4 linked regions of the Homo sapiens genome follow. The protein of the gene in region 3 purifies or fractionates together with the protein of the main gene of each other region. This does not show direct contact. Each region holds a gene or a part of one and is shown on either strand. Other genes may lie near its edges.

Region 1 (7,865 bases), on a different chromosome or scaffold from region 3:
AGATTCTGTAAAAGGGAGTAGCACAGGCAAATCAATTTTTAAGACTATAACTCAGGGCCAGGCACCGTGGCTGGTCTCGAACTCCTGACCTCAACTGATCCACCCACCTCGGCCTCCCAAAGTGCTGGGACTGCAGATAGGCATGAGCCACCACGCCCAGTCCCAGCCCTTAACTTTTTACCATCAAACCCAAAACATGTGCATCTAACGTCTCTATCTTCTCTGTTACAACGGCAGTACACAACTTCTTTCTGCCTAAAACCAATCTCTCCACCAGTGGATCAGGGTTTTGCTACTCAAGGTGGGATTTTCTGACCAACAGTTTCTGCATAATCTAGGACCATATTAGAAATGCAGAATATCAAGCTTCATATAAGACCAACTGAATCAGAATATGCATTTTAACATGATCCCCAGGTGACTCTCATTATGCACATTAAAATTTAAGAAGCACTGCTTCTATACAAAAGCCAATTCTCTCCCAGTTTTTCAGAATCCTTACCCTAGGGATTATTCACTCTCTTTCTTATCTCTTTGACCTTTAAAAGAAAAAACCCCACACTCCTTTTCCAATTCAATTCTTCAAAAAAGTTTCCACATGTCCTCCATTTCATGTTCCACTCACTCCTCAACCCATTCAGATCTGCCCCTCACCACCACTCCACTCAGCTCTCATTAAGATCAATGACCTTGAGAATGTTGCTAAATCTAAAGGACATCTTTTCATCTAACCCCTACTTGACCTCTCACTAGTATTCAAAACAATTGCCCTTTCTCTTCTTGAATCACTTTCTTTCCTGTGTTGACATGCGCACTAATGATGCAAAAGCAATAGTGGATAAAACTGCAGGTGCTTTAACATGAATCAAGGCAGTAGCCCTAACCTGTACTAGATAACTGTATTCTTCACTGCCAAGCACTGGTATTAAGAAAAAAGCCAGTTTCACTAAAGAATAAACTAGATGAAGCAAAATTATTAAATTTACTAAATCTCAACCCCTGAAGATACATCTTTTCAATATTCTACTTAAAGGAAATGGGAATTAATTATAAAGCACTGCATACGGAAGAATAATGGCAAAGTACATACTTGAGGACTGAACTAGCCACTTTTTTCTTGCAACACCATTTTTACTTGAAGGACTATCAGACAAACTGATCATTCAGACTTGGCTATCTGGCAAACATTTTTTCAAAATTTAATCACGTATGCCTTTCATTTCAAGGAAAACGATCAACTGTATTTGTTGCCAATCATAACACTCAACTTTACAAGCAAAAATGACATTTTTGGAAAACTTGTATTTGACACCATGAGCTTGAAAGCTTCTGAATATTTAAAAACTTGTCTGATGAGAGTGGTAGTCATATTGACAAATAAGACTTTTTGGCACTGTGGAATGAGATATGTCCACATTTGGAAAATCTGTGTAACTCAGTGGACTGATATTTTCCACATGACCAATGCATAATTTTTGCAAAAGTAAACATGGGTAAAACAGTCACTCAAAGTATAAGACAGACCATCAGATTTTAATGTAACAGAGTGAGTATAAGTTCACTGATATGATATCAGAATCCACATTATAACTAATCCTGGTAGGGTGCAGTGGCTCATGCCTGTAATCCAGTACTTTGGGAGGCCAAGGCAGGTGCATCACTTGAGGTAAGGAGTTCGAGGCCAGCCTGACCAACATAAAATACTAAAAATAAAAAAAATTATTCCAGTGTGGTTGTCTGCGCCTGTAGTCCCAGCTACTCAGGAGGCTAAGGCGGGAGAACTGCTTGAATCTAGGAGGTGGAGGTTGCAGTGAGCCAAGATCGCACCACTACACTCCAACCTGGGTGCGAGAATCTGCCTCGAAGAAAAAAAAAAAAAAAAAAACAGAATCCACATTATAACTAATCCTTAAGAAACTATCACTTGTTGAATTTTGACATGTTATCAAAGAAGCATATCCATGATTACGTTAAAAAATATAATATTCTTCTTCCCTTTCCCAAATACATCTGTGGATGATTTTTTCATATATTTCAATCAAAATAACATAATGCAACAAACTGAATGCAGAAGCAGATATGAGAATCCAGCTATCTTCCATTAAGGCAGACTTTAAGGAGATTTGCAAAAATGTAAATTAATGCCTCTATTCTCCCAAAATGTTTTCTTTTAAAAAAGTTATTTTTCACAAAAAAATTTTAACATGTAAGGGGTTTATTATTATAATTTTTTTTTTTTTTTTTGAGACAGAGTCTTGCTCTGTCGCCCAGGCTGGAGTGCAGTGGGGCGATCTCGGCTCACTGCAAGCTCCGCCTCCTGGGTTCTGACCTGAGGTCAGGAGTTCAAGATCAGCCTGGCCAACATGGTGAAACTCCGTCTCTACTAAAACTACAAAAATTAGCTGGACACGGTGGCGCACACCTGTAATCCCAGCTACTAGGGAGGCTGATGCTGGAGAATCACTTGAACCCAGGAGGCAGAGGTTGCAGTGAGCCAAGATTGTGCCACTGCACTCCAGCCTGGGTGACAGAGCAAGACTCCATCTCAAAAAAAAAAAAAAAAAAAAAAAAACAACTTCCCAGTTTCATTCTGAATATGGCAAATAGCAGTAAGCATACTAACATAAACAAAAGTTCTTCAGGATCCACAATAATTTTTAAGAGCTTAAGGAAGTCCTGAGACCATAGAGTTTAAGCATCACTGCCCTAGATCTCAATCACATCCCATGGCCACAATTAACCTCCACAGGTGCTTGACTCTAAAATTTTTCTCTAATCCAGGCTTCACCTCCAATTTCCATTTATACAACTGCTTACTTAATATCTCCACTGAGATGTCTCAAAAGTACCTCATACTCAACATATCCAAACCCAAACTCATGATCTCAATCTCTCAAACATGGTCCTCTTTCCAGTGTTCTCTCTCAGTGAGTGGCATCATCATCCATTGTAACCTGAGTCATCCACGACACTTCCTTCTCCCTCTCTCATATTTAATCATTCGACAAATCCTGACTATCTTGCCTTCCAAATCTCTCTCAAATATATTCAACTTTCTACTTTTATCACAAAACCCTCTATCTCTCTGGATCATAGCCTCCTATCAAGTCTACAAGCATTTGTTTGTTTTGTTCCCACTTCCTATCTCTCCTTACTCATCCTTCCTAGCTCTAGGAAAAACCACTTCCCCTTTCTTGGCCAGGCACGGTGGCTCACGCCTGTAATCCCAGCACTCTGGAAGGCCAAGGCGGGAGGATCACTTAAGCTCAGGAGTTCTAGATCAGCCTGGGGAACCTAGTGAGACCTTGTCTCCATCTAATTTAAAAAAAAAAAAAAAAAAAAAAGGTCACACCTGTAATCCCAGCACTTTGGGAGGCCAAGGCGGGCGGATCACTTGAGGTCAGGAATTCGAGACCAGCCTGGCCAACATAGTGAAACCCGATCTCTACTTAAAAATACAAAAAGTAGCCAGGCATGGTGGCGTGTGCATGTAATTCCAGTTACTGGGGCGGCTGAGGCAGGAGAATCACTTGAACCTGGGAGGTGGAGGTTGCAGTGAGCTCAGATCACGCTATTACACTCCAGCATGGGTGACAGAGCAAGACTCTTGTCTTGAAAAAAAAAAAAAGAAAAACCACTTCCCCAAAGACCACTCTGCCCATCCCCACCTCTCCAGGTCTTGTCCCTGCTTCATGCTGTCACAGTACCCTGAGCTTTTCCTTCATGACATTTAACACAGTTTGTAACCACATTTTTTCCCCACAATTATCTGTTTTCCCTATTAGACTATTAGGCACATAAGGTGCTGTATTTGTTTTGGTCATCACCATATCTTTCCAAGACCTAACATAAAGTAGACAATTTAAAGTTAAAAAACTTGTTCCTGTACAGGTATTTTTTTACCTTTTAGTGTAAACATATCAAAAAAGATTTTTTTACCACTGTGTTCAATAACTTTGGAATCCAGACTCAAAACAATGTTCCTTGGATATCTCTTGAAGGATACACTAGGAAATGATTAACAGTGGTTTCCTCTGGGAAGAGGAACCAAGTAACCAGGAGACAGGAAAGGGAAGACAACGGACTTTTTACTGTATATCCTTTTGTGCCCTCAAAATTAAGTGACATCATTATTTTTTAAATAAAGCCTACTAGCACCTAAAAGCATCTTCTGAGATGCTCAATTTCCAGAGGACATAACTTTCAAATTATATTCAGATTTAGTAGCAAGATCTAGAAATGCCCATAATACATATTTATAACATTAATACATATGATGATCACCTATTTTGATGTGAATACAAAATGCTCATTAGCTAATAACTCATATTACTATTACTTACTTTTTTTTTTTTTTTTGGAGGCACGGTCTCACTCTGTCACCGAGGCTGGAGTGCAATGGCACAATCTTGGTTCACTGCAACCTCCGGCTCCCAGGTTCAAGAGATTCTCCTGCCTCAGCCTCCCAAGTAGCTGGGATTACAGGCACATGCCACAGTGCTCAGCTAAATTTTGTATTTTTAGTTGAGATGGGGTTTCACCATGTTTGCCAGGCTGGTCTTGAACTCCTGACCTCAAGTGATCTGCCCACTTCAGCCTCCCAAAGTGCTGGGATTACAGGCATGAGCCACCGCACCCGGCCATGTTTACATTACTACATTTTAGAACTCGATACATCAGGTAAAAGCAAAAACGAATCTTGAACGTGTTTTACTTTCTGGAGCATTACCTTGATAAGTTCAGGCATTAATAAGAAGCACTGACACATCATAGAAGAAGTTATATTCGTTGAACTTCAGAAAGACACTGTCAAAATGGGTACAAACAGTGGAGAGCCGGCCGGGCGCGGTGGCTCACGCCTGTAATTCCGGCACTTTGGGAGGCTGAGATGGGTGGATCACAAGGTCAGGAGATTGAGACCATCCTGGCTAACACAGTGAAACCTCGTTTCTACTAAAAATACAAAAATTAGCTGGGCATGGCTAAAATAGCACTGCGCTCCAGCCTGGGTGACAGAGCGAGACTCTGCCTCAAAAAAAAAAAAAAAAAAAAGTGGAGAGCCATGTACAATACTAAGTTAAAGGAAAAAGAAATCCTTGACTATTATCCCATTTATTTTCAGAAAAATCCTGCAAGGATGAGGAAACAGACTTCAAAGGCTATCACACAACTATTCAGTGGAAAAGGCAGGTATCTGAACCCAAGTCTATCCCATTGCAGAGGCCACTGTTTCTACCACACCACCTGCCTTTCCTGACTAAACAGATGTGAAACTATTAAGACAAGCTAATTAAGCAAACATATTATCAGGACATACAGGCATGTTTTGGTTTATTAGACAGAACTAAGTCCTATTTGCTACTACTTTATGAAATCAAGGTAGTATGAAAGATTTTTACCAATATTCAAAATATGCACATCATCTTGCTTTTTTTGCCTGCTGGGAGTTGATTGTTTAAAAGAATTTTAAAAGACCTTTCCAAATCAATCACTTTATTCATGGAATAAAGTGCTAAAATAAAATTCAAAATTAGATATTTATTAATGATGGCATCAGTGGGTAGCCCACTTTACTCAAAACACTTAACATACATTCTCTCCTTTAATCCTCACAAGAAGGCCCACTGGAAAAAAGACTACTGGCTGGGCATGGTGGCTCACACCTGTAACCCCAGCACTTTGGGAGGCTAAGGCAGGTGGATCAGGAGATCAAGAGATGGAGACCATCCTGGTCAACATGGTGAAACCCCATCTCTACTAAAAATACAAAAATTAGCCAGGTATGGTGGCACGCACCTGTTGTCCCAGCTACTCGGGAGGCTGAAGCAGGAGAATCACTTGAACCTGGGAGGCGGAGGTTGCAGTGAACCAAGATCGCACCACTGCACTCCAGCCTGGGCAACAGAGCAAGACTTCATATGAAAAAACAGAAAAGAAAAAAAGACTACTGCCATTTTACAGGGGAAGAAAGTAAGGCTCTCAGAGGCTAATGAACACAACAGACCAAGAATCTGAACCCAAGTCTCTGATGCCACAGCCCATTCTTTCCATCTCACTATGCCTCCCTCACTAGTTTCAAGAAGGAACCAGGACAATTTTCCCTTGTAACAACAAGAAAATCTGGCTATAGAATGAAAAGCAAACTAATGTTTAAAAACAAAACAGTCACAAAATTAAACCAAATGTCTAGTTTTTGGAGGTTACTGGTACACTACCCCAAACACGGCTAACCCCTTCAACTTGAAATACTCTTGTATCTTCATATAGTAAATCATATCTGACTTAACTTTAGGTTCATTTCCTTAAAATTACATTATAAAGCCAGGTGTGGTGGCACAGCCTATAGTCCCAGCTACTGAAGAGGCCGAGGCAGGAGAATCGCTTGAACCCAGGAGCTCGAGGCCAGACTGGGCAACATAGTGAGGCCCCAGTCTCTTAAAAATTACATCATACTATATATGAATAAAGCCTAGAAAGGAAAATGGAAAAAATAACAGCTGTTATGTTAGGATGGAAGGATTTTACATAGAGATAAATTTTATGTTTTAAAAATTTCATTTAAATTGTTTTAACATGGCAACACTTTTTTTTTTTATTATACTTTAAGTTTTAGGGTACATGTGCTCAACGTGCAGGTTTGTTACATATGTATACATGTGCCATATTGGTGTGCTGCACCCATTAACTTGTCATTTACATTAGGTATATCTCCTAATGCTATCCCTCCCCCCTCCCCCTACCCCACAACAGCCCCCGGTGTGTGATGTTCCCCTTCCTGTGTCCAAGTGTTCTCATTGTTCAATTCCCACCTATGAGTGAGAACATGCATTTGGTGTTTTGTCCTTGCGATAGCTTGCTGAGAATGATGGTTTCCAGCTCCATCCATGTCCCTACAAAGGACATGAACTCATCATTTTTTATGGCTGCATAGTATTCCATGGTGTATATGTGCCACGTTTGCTTAATCCAGTCTATCATCGATCGACATTTGGGTTGGTTCCAAGTCTTTGCTATTGTGAATAGTGACACAATAAACATACGTGTGCATGTGTCTTTATAGCAGCATGATTATTATAATCCTTTGGGTATATACCCAGTAATGGGATTGCTGGGTCAAACGGTATTTCTAGTTCTAGATCCTTGAGGAATCGCCACACTGTTTTCCACAATGGTTGAACTAGTTTACAGTCAGTCCCACCAACAGTGTAAAAGTGTTCCTATTTCTCCACATCCTCTCCAGCACCTGTTGTTTCCTGACTTTTTAATGATCGGGCAACACTTTTTTAAATGTCATAACAAATACTTCTACTACATATTAGTACTAAACAGAAGCTACGAAATGACAATTGACTTGACTGACAAGTATGATTTTTAAAATACCAAAAGTAACTTTCAGGTTACCTCTAATGAAATCTATGAACGCAATTTTTAACTTGAGAGTCAGGATGAGGAAAAAAATAAAAAATAAAAATAAATTTTAAAAAATCTACTTTACTATAAATCCTGCTAAAACAAGTGTCAACTAAGGGCTAAGTTATTCTTACATACTCAAAATTCTGCCAATGACAAAAACTAATGGAAATAAATGGACCACTAACTAATTGTAATTTGGAAATTTTATTAGTAAGGATTTTTATCTTAGTACTGTTTTAACAAGAGTTACAACTGAAAGTTATTCAATAATCAAAAATGAAGGTACTTTAAAAATTTTGCCAACTGAGTAATATAAACTTTATTCCCACCTAAAACACATTAGGATAATTATACCAAATTTTTTAGGTCAACATCTCAAACATTTTCTACTAATTACCTTAAAATAGCATTAAAATGAATAAAGAAACATCAGAGTTTTCAATTACTTATTA
Region 2 (8,677 bases), on a different chromosome or scaffold from region 3:
GAAGATAATTAAACTTTGTTATCTTAAACATCAAAGCTACTTTATTTTATGCTTTAGCTAATGTATATTCATATGAACAAAATTTTGATAAAGTATTTTCCTTCTATAGTCTACTATAAATTTAGTTAAATTATGTTATCCCTGATAATTTTAGATATTTATGGAGAAGTAGTGTACTCTTACCTTTCTTACAGTTTCCTAGAAAAGAATAAATCAAAGATTATTATGAAGAAAATTGTATATATATATTTAAAAACAGCTTCCATTTTGGTGTAGTATACAAATATACCTTCACAATTCATTACATTATGCATTTACTATTATCTCAGTTTAATATTTCAAACTACAATTTAAAATTTTACCAACATGTCAAATAAAAATATGTACCTACAGAACAAAAAATACATAGCAATACGTACCTGTACTTATGCCTCAAATTCAACTCATGAGCTAAGAATGTGTTAACAATAAGTGCTTTTGCAAATAATTCCAAAGGAGTGAAAAGATTCTCTAGCTCAGTGAAATCTTCTGCTTCATAGAAGCTGATCCTAAAACTCAAACTTCTATTGGATTATTTACTCTATATTTCTTATGAATATTTTATAAACCTAGTCTTATTCAGTAGCCCCGCCTATTTTGGAAAATTGGGTGGGTACTTTCTAAGGCAGCCAGAAAGGTTTTGACTATCATAATTCTTCACAATTTTCTTGGGAATCTAGGATGGTCAATATTAATGTAACTTCTTCCCTTCCAAGAGAAGACATCACTGTAGCCAAGGGAATCAAAGTATTTTTAAAAATTCTAAAAAAAGTTTTACTCACCTCTTGTAAAGCTGTAGAAAAAAAAAAGAAAAAGTAGGAAACAATTATTAGTATCACTTCATGGATCAATAGCAATAATTAACAAATAGAGAAACAAGTTTATAGAATTGAATTACCTAATTAAGGACCAATTATATTTTTTTAAGAATATTTTAATGACCTAGAAATTATGCAGGTCAAAAGTATGGCAGGGATCAGCAGGGTGATTTGTTTGCAATATTAATATGTAAATGTATTTTGAATTAAATTATTAATTATTTACTATTTTATAACTGTTGTGAAATATTAATGTGTCTGAAGGATATTTTGAATGCTTAGCAATTAAGCTGGTAAAGTGCACAGATGAATCGCTGAATGTAAGACTAGTAGATTGATGAGGAAATAATTTATGATTTTGATCATTTTTAATACCTAAATATCGAAAAAAGGTAAAATTTAGGAAAGTATGTTACCTTAAAATTCTATATTGAATTTGTTTTTTATGAAACATTGAAGCTGACTTACTTTTTTATAAAACATTGAAGTTACCTAGTACTTCATTGAGTTTGTACCATTCTTAATATCCTTTTTCAAAAGGTCTAATTTGCACATTATTAACTATGAAAATGGATTAATTCAGACATCTGAATTTTGCTTTAAATTAGTTCACTTAAATTAGGTAAGATCATTTTACCAATATGTATCATTTTTGTCTCGGAGAAAGAGTTTTGTATAAATGGAAAAACCGGATTAAAGATCTTGAAAAATAATAGAAAAAATAAACAAAAGTACTATCCCCCCTTTTGCCATAATTGTTATAAGTCCTTAAAGAGTGAATTCTTCTCCTACGGTACAAAAATTATAGGTTAATACAGGATACAAGTGTGGCCAAGCTTGCAGTAGGATGAATCACCCCAAAAATTGCTTTAATTAGGTGGCCAAGAAGTGCGTTATTTGAAGTGAGAACATCTGTTGCAACAGTCACAATTTAGGAGGGTGGACCACATCCAGCACTGACATTTAAGGGCAATTTACGAGAATTACTGTTAAATTACAAGAATGATATGTTTACTTCATTGTGTCCATCAGTAGGAAGAATAATTATGCCTGACTTGATTAACGGAAGTCCTTATGATTTTGGAAATTTGCCTTTTAATTACTCAGACATGGACCATTTTGAAGAATGTGTGTTTGATAACATTTATTCCAGACTGTGGTTGGCTGTTGATCAGAAGGTAAGTTGCCTTTGTACCTTCAAATTTCCCTAAGTCTGCCTTCATTTTATTCTCTAGGAGCCGACTCTTTCCTCCCACTCTCAAGATCTCATTAAAAATATGAACTCGGTAATGTGAATTTGTTCACTGCAATTACTCCTTAGTATCCACAGTATGTATACTAAAAGTGAATGAAGGGGGAAGAGACACACAGACACACAGACACACACACACACACACACACACACACAAGCACACAAATGCATTAGAAATTATGCAGTGGTAGACACCGTGCTGTGTGGGTGGAACAACTTTTTGGAGTACTGGGTGTGGTCAGACAATACCATCCCCCATCTAGTCAATATCTTTGTCTAGCACTTTGGCAGCCATTTTCAAGATGAAAACGGACTGATCTTCTTCATTCTCTGTTGACATGAAAGTCTGGCCATGGAACCTAGAGCTGGAAAGTGGCCTTGGGGTCCCTTTAATCTCTGTCTCACATTTTAGAAAAGGCCGTTTGACTTGCCCAAAGTCACGCAGCAAATTGGTGTCAGACTCATGGGAAAAACCCCGGTCTCTTGAGTCTCATCTCAATGTTGATATTTCTCAACTTGCTGCGTTCATAATGTTTGCTTATCACTGGGAACATGTCAAAGGGGTAATTCTCAGGCTCAAACAAAATTTAGAGCAGATTTGAGTTAAAAAATGTTACCATTTCCATGACTAGAAAGTGAATTGAGACACTTATATTACTTTTCAGAATGTACCCACTCCAAGTAGCATCCATTCTTCTTTCCAGGGTTCACTGACTAGCCACTGGGAAAGGCTCCAACCAGAAATGCTGATCATTAATCTGTATAAATCCGTAGAAGCTTTAATTGGGATTCCATCTGCTTAAGGCCCTGTCCCCTGTACTTTCATTTTCCTTCCTCCAGAGGGCGCCTTATAACCATCATCATATCAGCATCGTCATCCTCCTCCTCCGGACAAGCCTTACAATGCCCAGAAGATAAAAGCTCTTAGGAGGTGAGTTTTACATTACTCAGTTGAAGGGCTTTCTAACGCAGGCCTCAAGTTTTACAAGGTGGACATCAGTGCGGTTATGGGGCCTGTGGGGTGCAGGCCCTTGACTTCCTCCACCACATTGGTCGTTAATATCTCATCCTTAGGGAAAAAGACCTTCCGCTCCCTTTGGGGGTTACTAAGCTGAGGAGCCAGACCGAGTTAACTGTCTCACTCTGAACTTAGAGGAAAAGTTCCCTAACTTTTGGCAAGGCTTTTATGTTTTCATTTTTTAAAGTAATTTCCATGTTTCTTATCAATTCCGGCGTTTTCCCACATGCCTGAGAGTCTGCCCTCCAAGTGTACCTGGAATTCAGGTTACAGGTTTTCCTTTTCAGGGCAGGGTGCCCTCCCATCTAACCTCTCTACCCAGTCTCCCCCAAACAAGCTGAAGGCACTTACATTGGCATGTTGCTAGGCATAAGGTTACTGCAAGCAGCAACAAAGTCCGCGTATCCACAAAGCTGAGCATGTCTAGCACTTAGACATGCAGACTCCTTGTGTCGCAGAGCCCCTGGGTCACCGGCGGAGGTATCACCTGGCGGGCGCGGGCATGCAGTCGTGGCCAGTACCTCCAACTTAGCCGAAACCTCCTGCTGCCGTGGTGCTAAAATAATAAAGCCCGGATCTGCCCTATTTATACGGCAAAAGTTTCCCTGGCCCTAGGGTGCCTCCAAAAGGGCCTCCACCAATGGGAGGGCTGGGGCTGGGGGCCCGGGCAGCCACAGCTGGGAGGAGCCTGCGGGGGCGCAGAGGAGGGAGCGAATGGGGGAAGGGACGTGGCCACGGGGCTGGCTTCTTAAATTGGTTCCATTCTTTTTGAGGACGTGGACACTTTTGAGGCTTTCAAGGGGAAACTCTGACTCGTTGTCTGCATACCTCCGCCCTCCGCATCCTCCCGCCCTCCCCCGCCCTTTCCAAGTTTGGAAACACTATGGGACACGTCGGAGTGCTCTGCAGCCCCGACATGGGCAGAATTTGCAGATCTCCGGCGATCAAAGCAGGAGCTGTCCAGTCCCGCCTCACCTGTGCCCTGTAGGCCACTTGTAGGGTGGAGGGCTCCAGCGGGAGCGGAGGGGGCAGAGAAGGAGGGAGGGAAGACTCGATAGCGTGGCGCAGCCGGAGCCCGCCTCCCCGCCCCTCCACCCCTGCACCCCGCCCCCAGCCCCGTCCAGCTTTTCTCTAGCTTTGGGGCTCGTGTGCGCCCACTGTTTCAGCAGTGATGCACTCTCTTTGTCTTATGACTTCGGGAAAGGGCGGGTCCTGTCTGTGGAGGGCTGGGTTGCAGTCGGAGGGCGCCTTTTGTTGGCAGGTGGGCTGGGGAGCAGGCTCGAGGCTGCTTGGCACCCGGCTACAGGGAGGATAGGCTTTGCGAACTCTAGACTAGACCGAGTCACCTGGGGAAGTCCTTCGACCTCCTAGCTTGCCTTTGCTGAGGCTCATTCCAAAGAGGGTCTTTTGGGGGATGGTCTGGCACTCCGACACGACTCCAACCGACCTGGAGACCGAGAACTTATTTCTCAGTCTCTCCTTTCTGAGGCTGCGGTGGGGGATCTTTCATGGTTTCCAGTCTCCCCTCCCCTTCTCCATGGGCTCCTTGTCTGGATTTACCAGTTCTACCCTGAGCCTGGACCCTTCAACCCTCCCGTGAGCCCCCCGGTCCCTCTTGACCTTGCTGCTTACTCTCTGTCCCATCTCTTACAGCCACACCCAAGCACCTCCCCTAGCACATCCAGAGGCCCTTCTGATTCGAGCTTGGGGTCTTCGTAGTCTTCGCTGGTAACACCCCAAGCAGTGCGCCCACCAACGTGGATGTTAACTCTCTCCCCAGCACCCAACTTCCCTCTTCTCTGGCCGCCTCCATCCAACCCTCCACTCCCTACTAGGGAGAGGAGGAACTGGTACTTTGACCCTGAGGTGGGAGGCCAAAGGTCCTGTGCCTTTTTCTAAAGCCTCTTGGGATGGCATTCCAGGCCCTAGGTTTGAAAGGCTGTGTGTGTGTGTGTGCGCGCGCGCGCGTGTGCGTGTGTGTGTGTGTGTGTGTGTGTGTGTCAGGCCTCTCCTCTACTTGCCTAAGGTCCCCATGAGGCAGCGGGGGCCTAGTTAGAGTGCTGCTCTATCCCAGAAGTCATCGCAAAGGGGGCATCTTTAGGTCAGTTCTGTCTCTAAGAAACAGAAGCAAGTGGGCTGTAGTTCCCTGAGAATCTTTTTCCCTTCCTTCCCCCCACCCCCTCCCCGCTTTTTTTGCTTTGCCTTAAGGAAGAATTTCTGCAGAAGTTAACTCCATCAGCAGCTTCTGTAAATAAAAGGGACTATTCTAAAGCAGGTTACTCTTTCTAAATGTAAAAGAAGAAAAAAAGGTTAATGCAAGTAAAAGTGGATAACCAAAAACTATAATAAACTCTTGTTTTATTCTAATTAAAGGCACTCACTTGGGAGACCACTTTGGATGATTTTTTGAAGTAACTGGGAGTGAAAGAATTTGAAAGGGTTACTGGTCATTCCTAGAAGGGGGTTTACAGGGAGCAATCCACATTCAAATTTTTTTCTAACTAGGCAACAATGTTTGAAGTTTTCTAGGTTCTAGGAACAACAACAACAAAAGACCTGAGGTTGAATTGTATATTCCAAGAACATTTTTAACATTTCCCTGAAATATCACCGTTACAGAACTAACAAAAAACTTTTAAAGTGGAAATCATTTTTATCAGGAAAGAAAAACTTCAATACTACATCATAACAAATTTTTTTCTGCATATCAGAAGAGTGAGAAATGATTTCTAAGAATCATTGTTACCACTGTGCTGAATTACCTTTGCAGGGCATATGTGTGTATTTGTCCTGTGTTGCTGAGAGTCAGAGACTAATTCTGAGCAAAATGACTCAGGGTGGTAATGCAACAGATTTATGAAAGAAACCCTCCAAATACCCTTCAGTGAGGTTATCTGATAACGCTTCTGGGGTCAAGTTGGCTCAATCATTGGATTTGCAATAGATATCCCAAGTTTTAAACATTTCATTGTAGGTTTTGTTGTTGTTGTCAAAATAGTTTAAAACATAGAATGTTTTTAGAAGTGTGATTATAATTTCTCTTTTAGCCAAAAAAGAAAAATCCTCAGCAAGTTTTTGAGAATTAGAGGACTGTAAATTGAAGCAGACATCTATAAACTTAGAGGGAAAACGTCTCTGCTAAAGGCAGCAGAGTGAACTGATAACTTGAAAAGCATTCCTGGAAACTGATGCAAATACCAAATGCCGCTGTGCTCCCTCCCTGCTGATGTGGCAGGGTTTGAAGCAGGCAGCCGTCAGCATTTGGTGGGAGGCCCTGGACCTAGAAACAAAAAATGAAAGTGGAGAAAACCAAACAAGAATCTTTCTTTCTTAAAGTGAGAATCAAGTTCTAATTGCAGCTGTTTTTCCATATAACTTGGGGGAAAATAGTTGATTAGGTGTTTGTTTTAAAGGAGGAATTTTTAGTGGTCAGTTAGATCTCTGTTAAATATTTTTGTGACTCCAAATAAGGAGCAGTTTTTCCTGGGGATGGGGGTGGGACTGGTAGAGCTGTGAGAGCTGACCCAGAACCTGAACTGAATGCCCTGGTGAGGGCCCTGATGGTTCTAGTGTGGGGAGAGGGGAGAGGGAGGGAGGAGAAAATGAGTAGAAGGAAAAACAAGTAAGGGGTGGGGTGGGGTCAAGACTGAGAGTAGAGGGATGGAAGAAGGGAGGCAGAGGAGACTAAAGATTCCTACAACTTTGGTGCTAGACGGTTAATACCTGGGTTCCTATGCCCAAATTATTTTCTATGAAAGAAAAGATAATTTCTTTAGCTTCCTATAACCCACTGATTACAAACTGGGCCACATGTTTATATATGGCAAGAAAATGGTTGAGAGTCTGGCTAATACAGAAATGCAGAACAGCCTGACGAGGCCCTGATGTCTTAATCTTATATTCCTTTCTTTGATCAAAGGTAAACATCGGACTGACATCTCCTTTCAAACATTCATTGAGGATCTACTCTGTGAGAAGAAGCAATACCATGTTATCTCATTCTAGTTCCAGTTCTAGTTGACTTGATTGTCAAACGACTGCTAAGAAGGTATTTGCTGAGAATTAATGTGGTAGCTGAAGAGTTAAGTGCTGGTTTTTAATTTTGTATTTATTTATTTATTGAGAAGGTCTCACTTTATCACCCAGGCTGGAGTGCAGTAGTATGATCTGGGGGCACTGCAGCCTCGAATTCCTGGATTCACGTGATCCTCTTGCCCCAGCCTCCCTAGTGGATGGGACTACAGGTGCATGCCACCATGCCAGGCTAATTTTTTGTATTCTTTGTAGAGATGAGGTTTCACCATGTTGCCTAGGCTTTTCTTAAACTCCAACTGAGCTCAAGTGATCCACCTGCCTCTGCCTCTTAAAGTGCTTGGATTACAGGTGTGAGCCACTGTGCCCAGCAAGGGCTGATTTCTTTCTGTGATATTTGTTTGAAAGGCATGGAGATTCCTGCTCTGTGTCATATCAATTAGGATATTCAGTTCCCATTGATTATTTAAATGAGTCAAGATATATATATATATATTTTTTTTTTTTTGAGACAGAGTTTTTGCTCTGTTGCTCAGGCTGGAGTGCAATGACACGATCTCAGCTCACTGCAACCTCTGCCTCTTGGGTTCAAGCGATTCTCCTGCCTCAGCCTCCCAAGTAGCTGGGATTACAGGTGTCCACAACCACCCCTGGCTAATTTTTCTATTTTTCAGTAGAGAGGAGGCTTCACCATGTTTGCCAGGCTAGTCTGGAACTCTTGACCTCAGGTGATCCACCCACCTCGGCCTCCCAAAGTGCTAGGATTACAGGCATGAGCCACCTCGCCCAGCTGGTAAGATGTATGTTTACTCAAGCAATATTTAGTGTTATGCCAGGCACTTACTGGGTTGGTGGGTATATAATTATGAAACAGAATGCCAAGGTCATTGCCCTCAGGGGGCTTATAGTCTGTTGGAGGATAGAGAAGAGTGTGATGAATACTGTAATGGAGGAATAGAATGCTTACATGTTTATGGGAGGATTTAGGATGGACACCTCATCTAGATTCAGATAAGTGGAATCAAGGAGGGCTTCCTGGAGGATGCAACATCCTTGTTCAACCCTTAAATACAAACAAAATTTTAAAAAGAGGTGTGAGAGTGGTGTGGGCACAGAGGCATTGAAAAATTTGGCAATCTGAGGAATGGAGCATTTCAGTACGATGGGATTGTGGTGGAAAAGAGGGAGGATAGAGGAAGGAGCTAGAGATGAGATTGGTGGTTTTGGCAGGGACCAGATCAAAAAGGACCTTTTAGGCTGTATTCTGGTGTTTGTGTTTTCTCAAGTGTGCTATGGGAGTGTTTAGATTATTTTAAACAGAGAGGGTAGGAAACCAGAGAGTGTTTTGAATAAGATGACTGGGGCTGCAGTGTGGAGAAACGATTAGAAGGGGAGCACAGTAGAGACAGGGAGAACAGTAAGGAGACTGCAGCAGGAATTCTGAGGGGAAATGATGGTGGCCTGAACTAGGATAGATGTGGTGGAGCTCAAGAGAAGTTGATGAGCTATAGAAATGTT
Region 3 (8,668 bases):
TTGGTCTAACCTTGGCCTATCAGAGTCCTTTGGAGGAAATGATTTGGATGTTGGGGAAAAGAGTTATTTCTTCTGGATTACTAGCTGGATGGATATGAAAGCCCGGAGTTGCCAGTGGCCATCTTCGTCAACATGTAATGAGACTCAACAAAGAGGAAAACAGAACAACATCCATAACCTCTACTGATATTGATTCATCATCTTCCAGACCTCATCTAATTTAAGTACTCGCTTGACTCAAATCTTGGCAACTTACCATGTAACCTGGAACCAAATGATGCACTAGGTCAACCAGGTTTTCTCTCAAAACCTATGTTTTGTTAATTACAAAACACAGAAAATACTGAATAGTTAACATAAAGTAAAAGGCCATGAGACAGCCTTGGAGCTCTATAGGGTAATGGAAAGACAGAATTTTAAAGGAAAAAACAAGTAGACAGAGCAGATGTTCTTCAGATGTCCCACGAGCGAGAAAAGGAGTCACATATCTCTAGCACTGCTTAGATTCCTTATAGTTTTCCAGTACTAGATGCATATAGGATAGGAATGGTTCATTCATTTGAAATACATTTACTAAGAGCTTGTAAATGTTTAATATATGTGATCGATTAAATTGTAATAGAAAAATATTCACTTCCTCTTTGTCACCTCCAAGGAAGGAGTTGTATTTCCCTGCCCCTTGAATTTGGCCTTTGCCAAATATCTTACTTTGGCCAATAGGAAATAAACACATGATGTGAGCAGGGGTTTAAAATGTGTCTCTGTGGTTGGGCTTGCTCTTATACCTCTGCTATCACCATGAGGACTTCAGCCCACTAGTCCAAAGATTAGAGACATATGGACCACATGTGCATCATAGAGATACCCAGATGACTACAGCCTATGTCGGTCAGCTCCCAGGTGGCCCCCAGATGCACCAACAAAATAAATACTAACTGTTGTATGCCACTGTGATGTTGCGGTTCTTACTTAGCAATAGCTTACTGATAAAATACACTAAGGACTAGGTGCTATGCGCCACTTAAAGACTGTCCTTACTCTCAGGCTTTCCACAGACACTGAACAACATCTACTAAAAATCAATTAACCAGGCCCTGTGCTAGGTGCAGAGGATGTAAATTAATAAAACATCACCTTTTCCCAGGGTGAATGCCCATTCTAGTAAGAAAAAGAGACCCTGATCACATGATCATAAAATAATATAAAGGGCTCATTGGTAGAGTTGGCTGAGGGTCTAACTTAGCCCAGAGGCATTAGGGGTGGCTTCACAGAAGAGTAGTTTGAAATGGAAGTGTGAAGAATGAACAATCATTCACCAAGTAGAGAAGATAAAAAGACTATAAGCAGGCAGATATATACCAAAAGTTTCGATGTCAGAACGTGTGGGGACTTCATGTAACAGCCACAGCTGAAACTTGTCACTGTTTTCATTTAGACCGCAATTTAGAATGAACATAAGTGCTGTAGTTTTTACTATACTGAGAATCACTGAAAGCCAGGTATCATGGCATACCCCTGTAATTCCAACTACTCAGGAGGCTGAGGTGGGAGGATTGCTTGAGCCCAGGAGTTACCTGCCTGGGCAACAAGCAAGACTCTATCTTATTTAAAAAAAAAAAAAAAAAAAAAAGGAAGGGTGGGGGCGGTGGGCGTGGCAGGCATGGTGGCTGATACCTGTAATCCCAGCACTTCGGGAGGCGAGGCAAGTGAATCACCTGAGGTCAGGAGTTTGAGACCAGCCTGGCCAACATGGCGAAACTCCGTCTCTACTAAAAACACAAAAATTAGCTGGGCGTAATGGCGAGCACCTGTAATCCCAGCTATTCGGAAGGCTGAGTACGGGAGAATTGCTTGAACCAGGGAGGCGGAGGCTGCAGTGAGCCGAGATTGCGCCATTGCACTCACGTCTGGGCAACACAGTAAGGCTCTGTATCGAAAAAAAAAAAAAAAAAAGAAGGGGGTTGCCGGGCACGGTGGCTCATGCCTGTAATCCCAGTACTTTGGGAAGCCGAGGTGGGTGGATCACCTGAGGTGGGGAGTTCGAGACCAGCTTGACAAACATGGAGAAACCCCGTCTCTACTTAAAAAAAAAAAAAATTAGCCAGGCGTGGTGGTGCATGCCTGTAATCCCAGCTACTGGGGAGACTGAGGAAGGAGAATCATTTGAACCCTAGAGGCGGAGGTTGTGGTGAGCGGAGATGGCAGCCATTGCAGTCCAGCCTGGGCAACAAGAGGGAAACTCCATTTCAAAAAAAAAGGAGGGGGGAAGGGGGGTTGAGTCCACTCTCCCCAGCTCACGCCAGATCTCATTTCAGTGGTCACTATTAAAAAAAATTAGATATTTACTTTATTATAGATACTTCCTATGATGATCTGTGAGGACATGCATTTTCTTATCCTGTAATACCATTTGTAACAATAGCAAAACCAGATCATTACTGGTCTGGAAAGACTGTCAATGTATCAGCAAATAAATCTTAATTAACTCTGATGATCTACTTAACTCATAACTCTAAAAGCACTAAAAGACCACTGTATGAAAAGGTGACTCAAGGCAACTGCAAACAAAGTGATCCCCAAAATACTAAAAGCACAATCTCAAGTAAAGTGGCAATAGCTGGGAAACTCTTTTCCAAACACAACTGTCAGAAATGGAAAAATGTCCTCCTGAGTAAAGTTTTCGGCAGAAAACTTCAGGCAGAGGCATAACACTGCTATGCAAAAACAATAACCAGACTTCACTTCAAGAAGTGAGCGAAGAATGTGAGTGATCATAAATCAGAACTTCCGTCAAGCTTGCACGAGTGGAGTTGTAAGTAACAGCAGAAACTTTGAAGTACCAGAAGATACCATCATTCAAAAACGAACACACTTTGACTAGCCCACCTTGGACACGGAGAATCTCGCTGATCACTACAAACTACAAGATAATCATTTAACTTTGAGACCTCAGTGAGAGAGGGTATCAGCTTTTCCTACTCCTTGCACGCTCCGCTGTACGGAAGATGCCGAGGGAACGCATGCCGTGTCTCAGTCCCGGCATAGTCAACCACGCTGGGCAAAAGACGGGGCCAGAGGGTGCAGACGAATATCGGTAACTCGAACCAGGCTGGGAGTTAAGCTAGAAGAAACTGGGGAAGGAGGCAAAACAGAAGCAGGAAAAGAGCAGTGGGGAGCGGCGGGCGCACCAGAGACTGGCGAGAAGGGGAAAAGTCCCCCAGACGCACAAAAATGTCTAGAAGGGGTTCTTCTACTTCGATCTGAGTTTCCCAGGAGCTCAGCCTTGGCTGTCCCGCTCCCCACCCAACCCCACATGATTCCTCCTCTTGGATGGGACGCTTAGGTGAAGCGAGGGGGAGCTTCGCAGGTGGCTCCCGGCAAACTGAGAAGGGTCTCCCAGAGCTGCCAAGAGGAAAGAACTGCGAACAGTCGCTCCCCCGGTACGTGAGAGAGGAGTGACCAGAGGCAAAGGTGAGGCGAGCAGGTTCTCCCTTACCTGCCGCAGGAGCTTCCACCGGGCGGCTCCCAGGGGCGCCGAGACTACGGGCCCCCGAGTGGTGCAGCCAACTGCCGGACTCCCGCCCGCTGCTCGCGCGGTCTCGCCGGTCCCAGCGTCCGCGACTCGCGACTCCATCTCACTGGAGCCTTCCACACCCGGAGGTGCCACCGCCGCAGCTCGTCCCCTGCCAGGACCTGCCAACTTCTTCCCTGTCAGGACCTGTGACGCCCGGCACCCTCCCTCCACCGGACCAGGCATGCGCGCTCTCCCCGAATTCCGCATTTCCGGTACTCGCATCTCCTTGGCAACCAGGGCCGAGCTGTCACGCCATTGCACCATTCTTGCTGGTAGCCATCTTGAGTGAGGGCGGACCAGAGGATGAGAGAGCTGTGGCAGGGCTACTGGAACGCTGTCCCTCATTGTTTTAGCCTTCTGTGCTTCATCTCGAGCTCAGAAGACTAGCGAAGAACGAAAAGTCTTATATATTTCGAGACTAAAGAACCCAGGAACCCAAGAAGACTCCTTGACCACAACAAAGATGGCGAAATCTGCCTGTTGCTCGTGCTAGATTGAGGTTACGTAGATTGGCGTGCTGCAAACCAGCTCTAGGCGGCTCTGGGTAAGTTGTCGTTCTGTGGGCTGCGGAACGCAGACTTCGGCTGGACTTGCCTGCGGTGACACCTGCTCCCCTCTGAGAGCTTCAGGTTCTCCGGCCTGCCTTCACTGGTTTGTGTCCAGAGCCGGACTGATTCTCTCAATTTGCGTATGTATGGGGGGTGTGCTGGTCTCTTTCCTTCTCCCCTTTCTCCCCCCGCCCAGCCACCCACCCCTCAGTCCCCAGGTCCTCGCTTTTTGACTAATGTCCCGGCACTGCGTGCGTGTCACCTGGTCCCTCTCCCTGTTGCATTCAGATCGCCTCATCCCTGGGGTGGAGAGTTGCACGGGGTAAACGAATAGGTTCTCCTGAGAACACCCATTTATCTACCCCACCCCCATCCTAGCCTTGCATACTGTCTTCTTGGGGATGAAAGATGGATGGATAAAGGCTGTGGGAACGTGGTGATGTAGGACCTTTGCAGGTCCTTGTTATTCGGGTCTTTTTTCCCCTTTTTTTACTAGTGTCGGCTAGTAAACTAGTGTTGCTCCCCTACCCCCAATCGCCCATTATTTTGCTGCGACATGGAAAGGGATTAAGGGGGGCGGGGGCGTCGTAGCGCATCTGATCTATGGTAAATTTGACGCAGCATTCTACCTTTGATACCAGGGGGCATTTTGTGGAAGACTTCCATAATGACATTCAGCGGTGTGCAACATACCTAGATTATTCCTGTCGTAAATAATAGCAACTGCCATTTATTGAGTGGTCACTATGTGCCAGGCACTGTATGGTCTTAATGTTAAGCTGTCTCATTTTGTCTTTACAACAACAACCCTAGAAGGTAAATGGTGTCATTTCATTTTTGCAGATGAAGAAACTGAGGCCCGGAGACACAGTTAAGTGTAGGAGCTAAGACCTCAACCCAGGTCTCTCTGACTCTTAACTACTTATTAGCAATCAAGGTTAATAAAAGCTACCTCCTGACAAACCAGAGATGGCCTTACATTTTATTTGTGCATCTTGCAGGGGTTTTTTGTTGTTTTTAATTAAAGCGCTAAATACCTTTTTAACATTAAAAATCCGAAGTTGAGTATGTCCAGTATTTGGAACCGAACCAAATTGGATTTTTTGCTATACAGCTTACTGTACAAGTGACCTGGAACAGTTGCTTAGAACCTCCCACAGCCACAGTTTGGCAACCTGTAAAATGTGCATGGTAATATCTACTTTATTAAGTCCATATAAAATTTAAATTAGACAAACAAGATAAAAGCACCTGGCAGTTAGTTAACACTCAACAATAATTAATCTTCCCTCCCCCACCTTTATTAAATAATTAGGCTTTTCCAGTTTATCTTCCACATATATACCAAAGATACGTTCATAATTATGTAAGACCAAAGGGCTTTTTACCTTTTACAGCCCTGAGTTCCTGAGATACCCCATTAAGTCTGTGTACTTATTTGCAAATTTATATTTTGTTTCTTGTTTTGTTTTTTGTTTTAGTTTAACCCCTATGTGTGCCAGAGTCAGTGCTGCATAGTTTGAGCCTGATAGGATTAACTTTACAAATGAGACATTTAAGTCACATCTGCCAAGAATTATGATTTGAATGAAACTTTAACTTACACAGGTTTTTAGATTTAGTTAGCCTAAGTTATCAGCTGTCTGAAGTTATTCATAACCTAAGTGGGGCATGGCCCTGAAAAGGAGGGATGAGAACTGCTGATCTTAGTTACTCTGAGAACCCACTACTCTGTAATCATACCTATAAAATCATTCGTGTGCTGGCAGCCCCAAAAGGAGCATAAACCAGGGACTTTGATATCATGCAGCAGAAGACCAAATTATTTCTCCAAGCTTTGAAGTATAGTATTCCTCACCTTGGAAAATGCATGCAGAAACAGCATTTGAATCACTATAACTTCGCTGATCATTGTTACAATAGAATAAAATTGAAAAAATATCACCTAACCAAGTGTCTTCAGAATAAACCCAAGATATCAGAGTTAGCAAGAAACATCCCAAGTCGGAGCTTCTCATGTAAGGTATGGACTGTTTAAGTTAACCTATTTGTAGGTCATTAAGATTAATTTTAATTTAAAAATAAAGAATGGGTAGAATATCAGAGCTACTAATTTTCTCAGTAATTCTAACTTGATTTTTCTAATTTTCAAGTCTCAATTGTCTCTAGTCAAAAGTAAGTATAAAAGAGTATATACATCGAGGCAGGCAGATCACCTGAGGTCAGGAGTTCGAGACCAGCCTGGCCAACATGGTAAAACCCTGTCTCTACTAAAAATACAAAAGTTAGCTAGGCGTCATGGCACCCACCTGTAATCCCAGCTACTTGGGAGGCTGAGGCAGAGAATCTCTTGAACCCAGGAGGCAGAGGTTGCGGTGAGCTGAGATCGCACCACAGCACTCCAGCCTGGGTGACAGGGAGACTCTGTCTGAAAAAAAAAAAAAAAAAAAAAGTGTATACATATATTTATAGGGCTCTAATGTAATATATAAAAATGTAGGTTTATAAAAAATGATTCACCTCAGGACTTCCTTAGTATGCCTGCCAGTGCATTTCAAAGTATAATTCGGCCTTCTAAATTTCCTAGAACACTAAATTATAGCTCTTAATAAAATCTAATGATACGCTAATTGTTTTATGAATCACAAATCAGTAAACTTCAGTAAAGGCCATGAATTGTATTTTATTTCTCTGTAAAAAAATGAAAAATAATCTTGCGTTTTTGACCACTTGAGTCATTCAGGAAGACACTGTCAGAGTATTGTACTTCTGCCAGACCCCAAGCTGTGGGCGTGAACTCAACCTTAAGGACCTGATTGCCCTTATATAGAGAGTAACCACATAACCACTTTTGCCTGGCACAGCTCCAGCCTACACCTGTTGTCCCTGTGTAATTATTAATAGTGTCCCCTTTCCTCTCAAAAGTGTCCTGGTTAGAATGGTAAATTATATGGTCATCCTACAGTAAGTAGGATTAAATGATCTATTTGTGCTGCTGCTGCTTTGACATCCCTCTCCTACCTTTTACTTCTTATGTTCCTTAGGTTCCTTAATGATATTTGGGGGTGGTATTCTTGCAATAGTTTCACAAATTTATGATTTTAATATTTTTTTTATTTTAATTTCTGGTTTTGTCGCATACTGATTTTTCTTTTAGTCTGTTTTGGCTTCCTCCTTTCTTCGGGTAAAATATATGTATAACAAAGTTTTCCACTTGATCCATTTTAAAGTATGCAATTCAGTGGCTTTCAAAGTTCATCTGTGTTGTATGCATGTATCATAACTTCATTTCTTTTTATAGTTGAATAATATTCCTTTGTATGTATAAACCACATTTTGTTTATCCATTCCTGTAATTGATGGACACTTGGGCAGATTCTTCTCATTTTAGAAACTATCTTTTCAATCTAATTTTTCTCAGTTTTTCTAGTTTTTGTTCAATTTTTGCCGCTATCTTAGCTGATACCTATTTAGGTGTTGTGTGTGTCTCTTTTGCTTTTAACATTTTATATGTTAGCCCCCTAGTCTTCCTAGACTTTTACTGTTTATGTTTTAGTCTTTGAAATTCTTTTCCTTTTTGTAGTGTCTTGCCTTAGTTTAGTACTTTCTTTACTCATTTAGAAATTCTTTATAACTTCTTTTTATTTCATTTTTGTGTTTTTTGTACATCTTTCCTACTTCAGAAAGATAAAATTTTTAATTTCACCTATTGAACTAAATTTTGGACCTTTAGGTTATTTTATTTTGCATTGTGTTTAGAACATTTTGTCATGTCGTACTTTGTCTTAACACTTAGTTTATAAATAGTAGACAGGAATTACCATCAGAGTAACAGCTGTGATATTAGCTCACATTCTAAACAGAAGGTTGACTATTTCTTCCCTCCATTTGTTCCTGAAGCAACTTTTCCGTTCTCTTTTATAGATTCCCACTACCTGGAAACTTTAACCTGACTCAATAACTCCAAGTATTAATAGTTCATTTAGTAATTCCTTTACCTGATAAAGTAATCCTGCTGTCACATGTCATGTATCAACCATTCCCTCTATGAGAAATGATGTAATGTAAAAGCCATGGTCTTTATCACTGAGACCTGGGGAAGCTTTATAAAGATGCCCCGGCAGCTGTGAAAACACCTGTAGAGAAGAATGCACATTTCCTTCTTTCAGCAAGCATCCACTGATTTCCAACTCTGTCCACTTTTATAGGGTGTAATAAAGTAGAAAAAGTAGTTACTGCTTTTAGGTAAATTAAAATGTCTGCTTAAAGAGCTATTACCTATATAAGTTAACTAAGGAACAGAAAAGTAGCATGTGTAGTGGGAATGTTAGAAGGCAAAAGATCCAGCCACGATTGGTGTGACTGAACTAATCAGGACTCCTAATTTTCCTGACTGAAAAAAATAGGGAGTTCTGATCAGGCATACTGGCTCACGCCAGTAATCCCAGAACATTGGGAGGCCAAGGCGAGCAGATTGTCCGAGCTCAGGAATTCGAGACCAGCCTTGGCAACATGGCAAAACCCCAACTCTACCAAAAAGACTAAA
Region 4 (5,603 bases), on a different chromosome or scaffold from region 3:
AATTATGGTTTATGATTACTGAATTCTAAGAAATAAACCTTACTCTTTTAGGTTGCTAATAATAGTGGGAAGAAAGGATACGTCTTTTTGGATGAGTGTCCCCGCCCAAATCTCATGTCGGATTGTAATCCCCAGTGTTGGAGGTGGGGCCTGGTGGGAGGTGACTGGATTATGGGGGTGGTTTCTTATGGTTTAACACCATCCCCCTTGGTGTTGTCCCAATAGTGAGTTCTCCTGAGATCTAGTTGTTTAAAAGTGTGTGGCACCTCCCCTGTCTCTCTGTTCCTCCTGCTCTGGCCACGTGAAGTGCTTGCTCCCACTTAATCTTCCACCTTGATTGTAAGTTTCCTGAGGCCTCCCCAGAAGCCAAGCAGATGCCAGCATCATGCTTCCTGTACATCCTGCAGAACCATGAGCCAATTAAACCTCTTTTTAAAATAAATTACCCAGTCTCAGGCATTTCTTTATACCAATGCGAGAACAAACAAATACACCTGGGATCCTGGCTCCCAGCTTCCGATGACTTGTTTCATGAACACTAATGAACGGGCAGCACAGGGAGCAGGCATCCTCAGCTGCTCCTGGATGGCATCTGGATGGCGGGACATTTCATTTTTGCTTTTTTTTTTTTTTTTTGAGACAGAGTCTCACTGTTTCGCCCAGGCTGGAGTGCAGTGGCGTGAACTCTGCTCACTGCAAACTCTGCCTCCCGGGTTTATGCTATCCTCCTGCCTCAGCCTCCCAAGTAGCTGGGACTACAGGCGCCCGCCATCATGTCCGGCTAATTTTTTTGTATTTTTAGTACAGACAGGGTTTCACTGTGTTGGCCAGGATGGTCTCGATCTCCTGACCTCGTGATCCGCCTGCCTCGGCCTCCCAAAGTGCTGGGATTACAGGCGTGAGCCACCGTGCCCAGCCGGATGGCAGCATATTTTTTACATCATGTTGTTTTATTTTCAACTACTACAAAACAGAACAAGAATCAAATGTGATAATACAATTTTCTTTATTAAAAATAATTTACAGCATCAGTAACATATACACAATTGTCATCAACTGAACTTTGCCTCCAATATATTTCTATACAATACTTAACATTATTGAACTTAAAACTGTTACACTGTTTTGTTGGCTTTAAATAATAGACAATGATTTTTGTCTATTACTTAGTGATAGACAAAGTGATTACTTTGTTACTTAAGTGAGATATATGGTTTCATAGCCACATATTATGTGTAAAATTGATAGAAACGTCAGCAATATCACTCTTTAGGGGAAAAAACACTGAAAAGCCAAAGTCCACCCTCTTCTTCTCTCTTATTACTCCAACCAAACTAAGATAGGATAAACATCCAGTATCTTAGTATCTCCTCCTAAACCTAAAGACAAAAGAAAGGTGTCTTCTATTCAACCACAGAAAAATGTCAAATAATTTCTTCTCATCCTCTCACTCATCACTGTGAAAGCAAATGCACACGACCTTGTTACCATATATGCAGGCAACTATGATTCTGATTTAGGTCCTAGCTTTACTTTCCTTTAGTACAACTGTTGTTTGATTACCAACGAAAAACTAAGCAATCTGGCTAGAGGGATACTAGTACCTTCTTTCAAATGTCAGCATGGAGATAAAACAAAATAGTGATAACTGTCATCTTAGAAACTTTTTAGATATAATAATGGCAATTCAGTGGCTGGATGACATTTCCATTGATTCCATTGTATAAGAGTAGCAAAACCCCAAAATATGAAAATGGCAATGATATGTAGCATAATGTTTTCAAAGTATAAAAAAAACCCTGCTGTTGGTAGTGACCTTTGAAATTGTACTTTAAGCTTACAACACTGATTTGCTTTTCTTGTGTGTCTGACATTACACTTCCTTTTTTTTTTTTTTTTTTTGGTAACACAAAATTACCCAAGGTATAGTAAACAAAGAAGACACAGACAATAAAAACTAACAGATGCCACATTTTGCAAACATAGCATTTGGCTAGAGGCAGAATTATAAGGTATACATATTAAAACATACATCCAAGACTCTCCTCCTCAATTTGAAACCATGTTTATCAAGTTTTTACTTCATTGTATATAAGCCAAAAAATTAAGAGAACCTTGATTTGTTCCTGAAATACAAGATTTGCTTGTATTATTACTGGACCAGGTAGACTGGATATGTGAATGTTTAATTCATAGTTAGCTAGCTTTACCATCATCTCCTGAATCAGCTGCTGAGGATGCCTGTGCCTCTGCCCATAACTATATATAGAGTATGCTTTCAAAACAATATAGGCCGGGTGTGGTGGCTCACACCTGTAATCCCAGCACTTGTGGAGGCCAAGGCGGGCGGATCACGAGGTCAAGAGATTCAGATCATCTGGCCAACATGGTGAAACCCCATCTCTACTAAAACTACAAAAATTAGCTGGGCGTGGTGGTGCATGCTTGTAGTCCCAGCTACTCAGGAGGCTGAGGCAGGAGAATCCCCTGAACCCGGGAGGCGGAGGTTGCAGTGAGCCAAGATCGCGCCATTGCACTCCAGCCCAGCCACAGGGCAAGACTCCGTCTCAAAAAACAAAACAAAACAAAATAGATTTGTTTCCCCCTGCACAATCTGGAATTACCATTTCTTCAGAGCACATACAGGCATTTCATCTTTCAACCTGTAATTTCTCCTAACTCATGTTTTCATGTAAATTAAAAACACATGCACTAACAAATAAATATACAGCATATATCAAGAACACAATATAATTTGAAAGTGTCGAAGAAAATACTTATACAAAATTTAAATAAAGAAATCATTTTGTCGAACTCTAGTCCATCTTATTGTCTAAACACATATTTGCAAAATATTTTCAAAAGATTGTATGATTATGTGCAAAGTTCTTAGTGGTCTTCATCCACTGGTTTGGTAGTTTCAGCATTTTGCTTACAACAAGTAATTCTTTATGCAATGTGAACTAATTCTGAATTGCAGTAACTAACTAGGTCATAGAAAGATATCTATGTGAAAAAAAATCACTACAATTAACCTTTAGCCTGCTAGACTTAGTTTCTTAATTAAAAAAACAGTATAGAACCTTCTATAATTAATTTTCCAACCTTTTTAAAAAAAATTACCAAACATCTTGTTGACAGAACATTTGATGTGATGGGCAGACATGCATATTGAGGATATATAGTACTCAGCAACAACTTAAGTGTTTTATCCTTACGGTCAGCTTTGGTTAAAACAGTAACATAACAAAATTAATAGAATCATGCATCGCAGGTGATAAATGATTCAAAATGACAGGAAATCAATTTAATTAAGAAATAGCAACACTTAAAAAATGCATAGGGTTGAGCACCCGTATTATTGAGGGTGGATAATTTAAATGTATAGAAGAAATCAGTTCAGAGTTTAATGATTGAATAACATTCTCTTTAGCAACTATGAGTGTGAAATTTTGGTTAATGATACCGAAAATATTAGGTTATAGGAAGTTACAGTATTACATAAGGTGAGCAAAATAATCTAATCCAATTAATATAACGCCATCTGGGGGCTTGCCAGACAGTCACAGTGGCAAACTGCTGAAATATGAAAGGCTGCATCATATGTGATACATATTCCCACTGCTAATACATGGTGCCACACAATCAGTTGTATCCTGCCATGGTCCATCTTCATATGTGGAGGGAACCTTGGCTGGATTGGACAGAATGATTGTGACCTGGGGCAGGTTCCATCCCTTGCAGTTAGACTAAGGATAAACCTGGTTATATGACAAACTAAGAATGCCAAATGTGTCCAGCTCAATTCTGAAGAGGAATTAATATACTTAAAAGGTCCATTTATAAATGAGATTCCAATGGCCACAATTTTAGAGTCTAATCTGGCTTCTTATATTTCAATCTGCTACTCTTAAACCAACAAACAGTAGTACACAGTTTTATTGGTGCAAAACTAAACAAATCCAGGAAGGTTATTCATATAAGAATCTTCAACACAAATTCTGCCTTTATTTACAAAATGGTCTGATAAAATATCGCCCCCCCCCCATACTTACAGGTCTCTTCCACAACACACTTCACACGTTGATTTTAGCAATATTAATAGCACCATTCGTATATTATTTAAAATCAAGAAGATTTCATTTCAGTTACTATGTTGATTCATCATCATTTACATCCATGGATGAGATAAGTGAGTATACTGGGACTATCTGCTGCTCCATGGTAAGGATTCCTGGGTCCAGCACAAAAGGCTTTGCAGTTACCAGTTATGAAAGGTATCTATGGTAAGTAGATACTATGAGAATTTTCGTGCCACAAAGTTTAATAATCCTCCATGTTTGTATAATGTTATTTCCACATCATCTTCAAACGAAGCAATCACGCTGAATACTTTTCCAGTGCTTGTCTTGAAAGGAGCAAAAACATCTCATGTGAGCAAGTAAATCTTCCAGGTGCTACTTGATGGTTAAGACCATTTGTCTTCATATTTAATGACTATACTTGCCACAGATTCTGTCTGATTTATCTTGGTTCTAATTTCTTATATTCTGATTGCCTGAAACTTTGCTGCTGCTTGAAAAACACCTGAGATACCTGACCATGGGCTTCATAGTTAAGTAGAAAAATAGCTGCATTTAGATTTTGACTTATTAATTGGGGAAGTTATACTCACTACTCACATTCATTTTACACCAAATATTGATTGCATGTAATCAGTAACTCCTACTCTTTCCCCTTTTTTCTTAGTTGTAAAGTCTGTTTTGCTCTAACTTTGAACGCTCAACTTTGCTCTCTTTGGAGTGGTATGTATGCCTCGGTTAAAATTAGATCAGGACAGCAAAAAAATGACCACCATGAAAAGAAAGCTGACACTTGTTAAGTGGAAGTCAAGATTCCCCTTCATGTGTTCTTTTTTTCTGGTATAAGCACCCAGTTCTTTCCACTTTTCCTCAGAGAACATGAACTATTAACATAGCTAGATCTAAGTATGGAAGAGAGAGTCATCTTAAATGGCAACTTAACATTCATTAAGTGACATTAGTATATAATTTACAGCAATTGATTCTTATTCAATAATTCATAAACATTTGAGTGCATAATCATATATTTGAAAAATTTAGAGATACCTGTATATTCAATGTAATTCCAGGAGACAGTTCTTCAGGAAATGTTAAAGAAAATGTTTCTCTACCGGAGAGGCCCAAGGAATCTGCATTTTCTCCTGGAAGGAACTGAAGTGGAGCTATGCCAATTCCAATCAAATGATCTTTGTGTATTTTTTCATAACTTTCGGCCAAAACAGCTTTCACACCCTGTAATAAATGTGCATTTTATTCCCTCTAATCACTTCTGAAAGTTATTTATTGAGCATTTAAAGGGGGCAAAAATCTACTTTGGCCTTTCTCTAAATACTTTTAGTCTAATATCTCATACTGAATCAATATTTTATCAAAGTATTTACAGAACCTTCTTACAGATTATTTTTCTGAATTTTTATGGAGCTCTCTAAATTATTCGGATCCCTTTCTGCTGCTCTAGGGTTAAGTACTGCCGCTGCCTACCACATCATAAGAGCTCTATAAATGGGCCGGCTCCCTTGA

The links.
Region 1: the proteins of CAMKMT (region 3) and HECTD1 purify together in Homo sapiens (affinity purification with mass spectrometry; 3 studies listed by BioGRID and IntAct, with this or other methods). This does not show direct contact.
Region 2: the proteins of CAMKMT (region 3) and COL1A2 purify together in Homo sapiens (affinity purification with mass spectrometry; 3 studies listed by BioGRID and IntAct, with this or other methods). This does not show direct contact.
Region 4: the proteins of CAMKMT (region 3) and IREB2 purify together in Homo sapiens (affinity purification with mass spectrometry; 2 studies listed by BioGRID and IntAct, with this or other methods). This does not show direct contact.

What each region holds. Positions count from the first base shown.
Region 1 is NC_000014.9:31,197,168-31,205,032, forward strand, and holds part of HECTD1 (E3 ubiquitin-protein ligase HECTD1), read right to left. Parts: intron 1-7,865. UniProt on the Homo sapiens protein: E3 ubiquitin-protein ligase which accepts ubiquitin from an E2 ubiquitin-conjugating enzyme in the form of a thioester and then directly transfers the ubiquitin to targeted substrates.
Region 2 is NC_000007.14:94,389,903-94,398,579, reverse strand, and holds the start of COL1A2 (collagen alpha-2(I) chain precursor), read right to left. Parts: upstream 3,686-8,677; 5' UTR 3,549-3,685; coding exon 3,479-3,548; intron 833-3,478; coding exon 822-832; intron 199-821; coding exon 184-198; intron 1-183. UniProt on the Homo sapiens protein: Type I collagen is a member of group I collagen (fibrillar forming collagen).
Region 3 is NC_000002.12:44,356,974-44,365,641, reverse strand, and holds the start of CAMKMT (calmodulin-lysine N-methyltransferase), read right to left. Parts: upstream 3,696-8,668; 5' UTR 3,635-3,695; coding exon 3,497-3,634; intron 1-3,496. Other genes in the region: PREPL (prolyl endopeptidase-like), read left to right, coding at 5,927-6,145.
Region 4 is NC_000015.10:78,496,838-78,502,440, reverse strand, and holds the end of IREB2 (iron-responsive element-binding protein 2), read right to left. Parts: intron 5,316-5,603; coding exon 5,130-5,315; intron 4,409-5,129; coding exon 4,298-4,408; 3' UTR 988-4,297; downstream 1-987. UniProt on the Homo sapiens protein: RNA-binding protein that binds to iron-responsive elements (IRES), which are stem-loop structures found in the 5'-UTR of ferritin, and delta aminolevulinic acid synthase mRNAs, and in the 3'-UTR of transferrin receptor mRNA.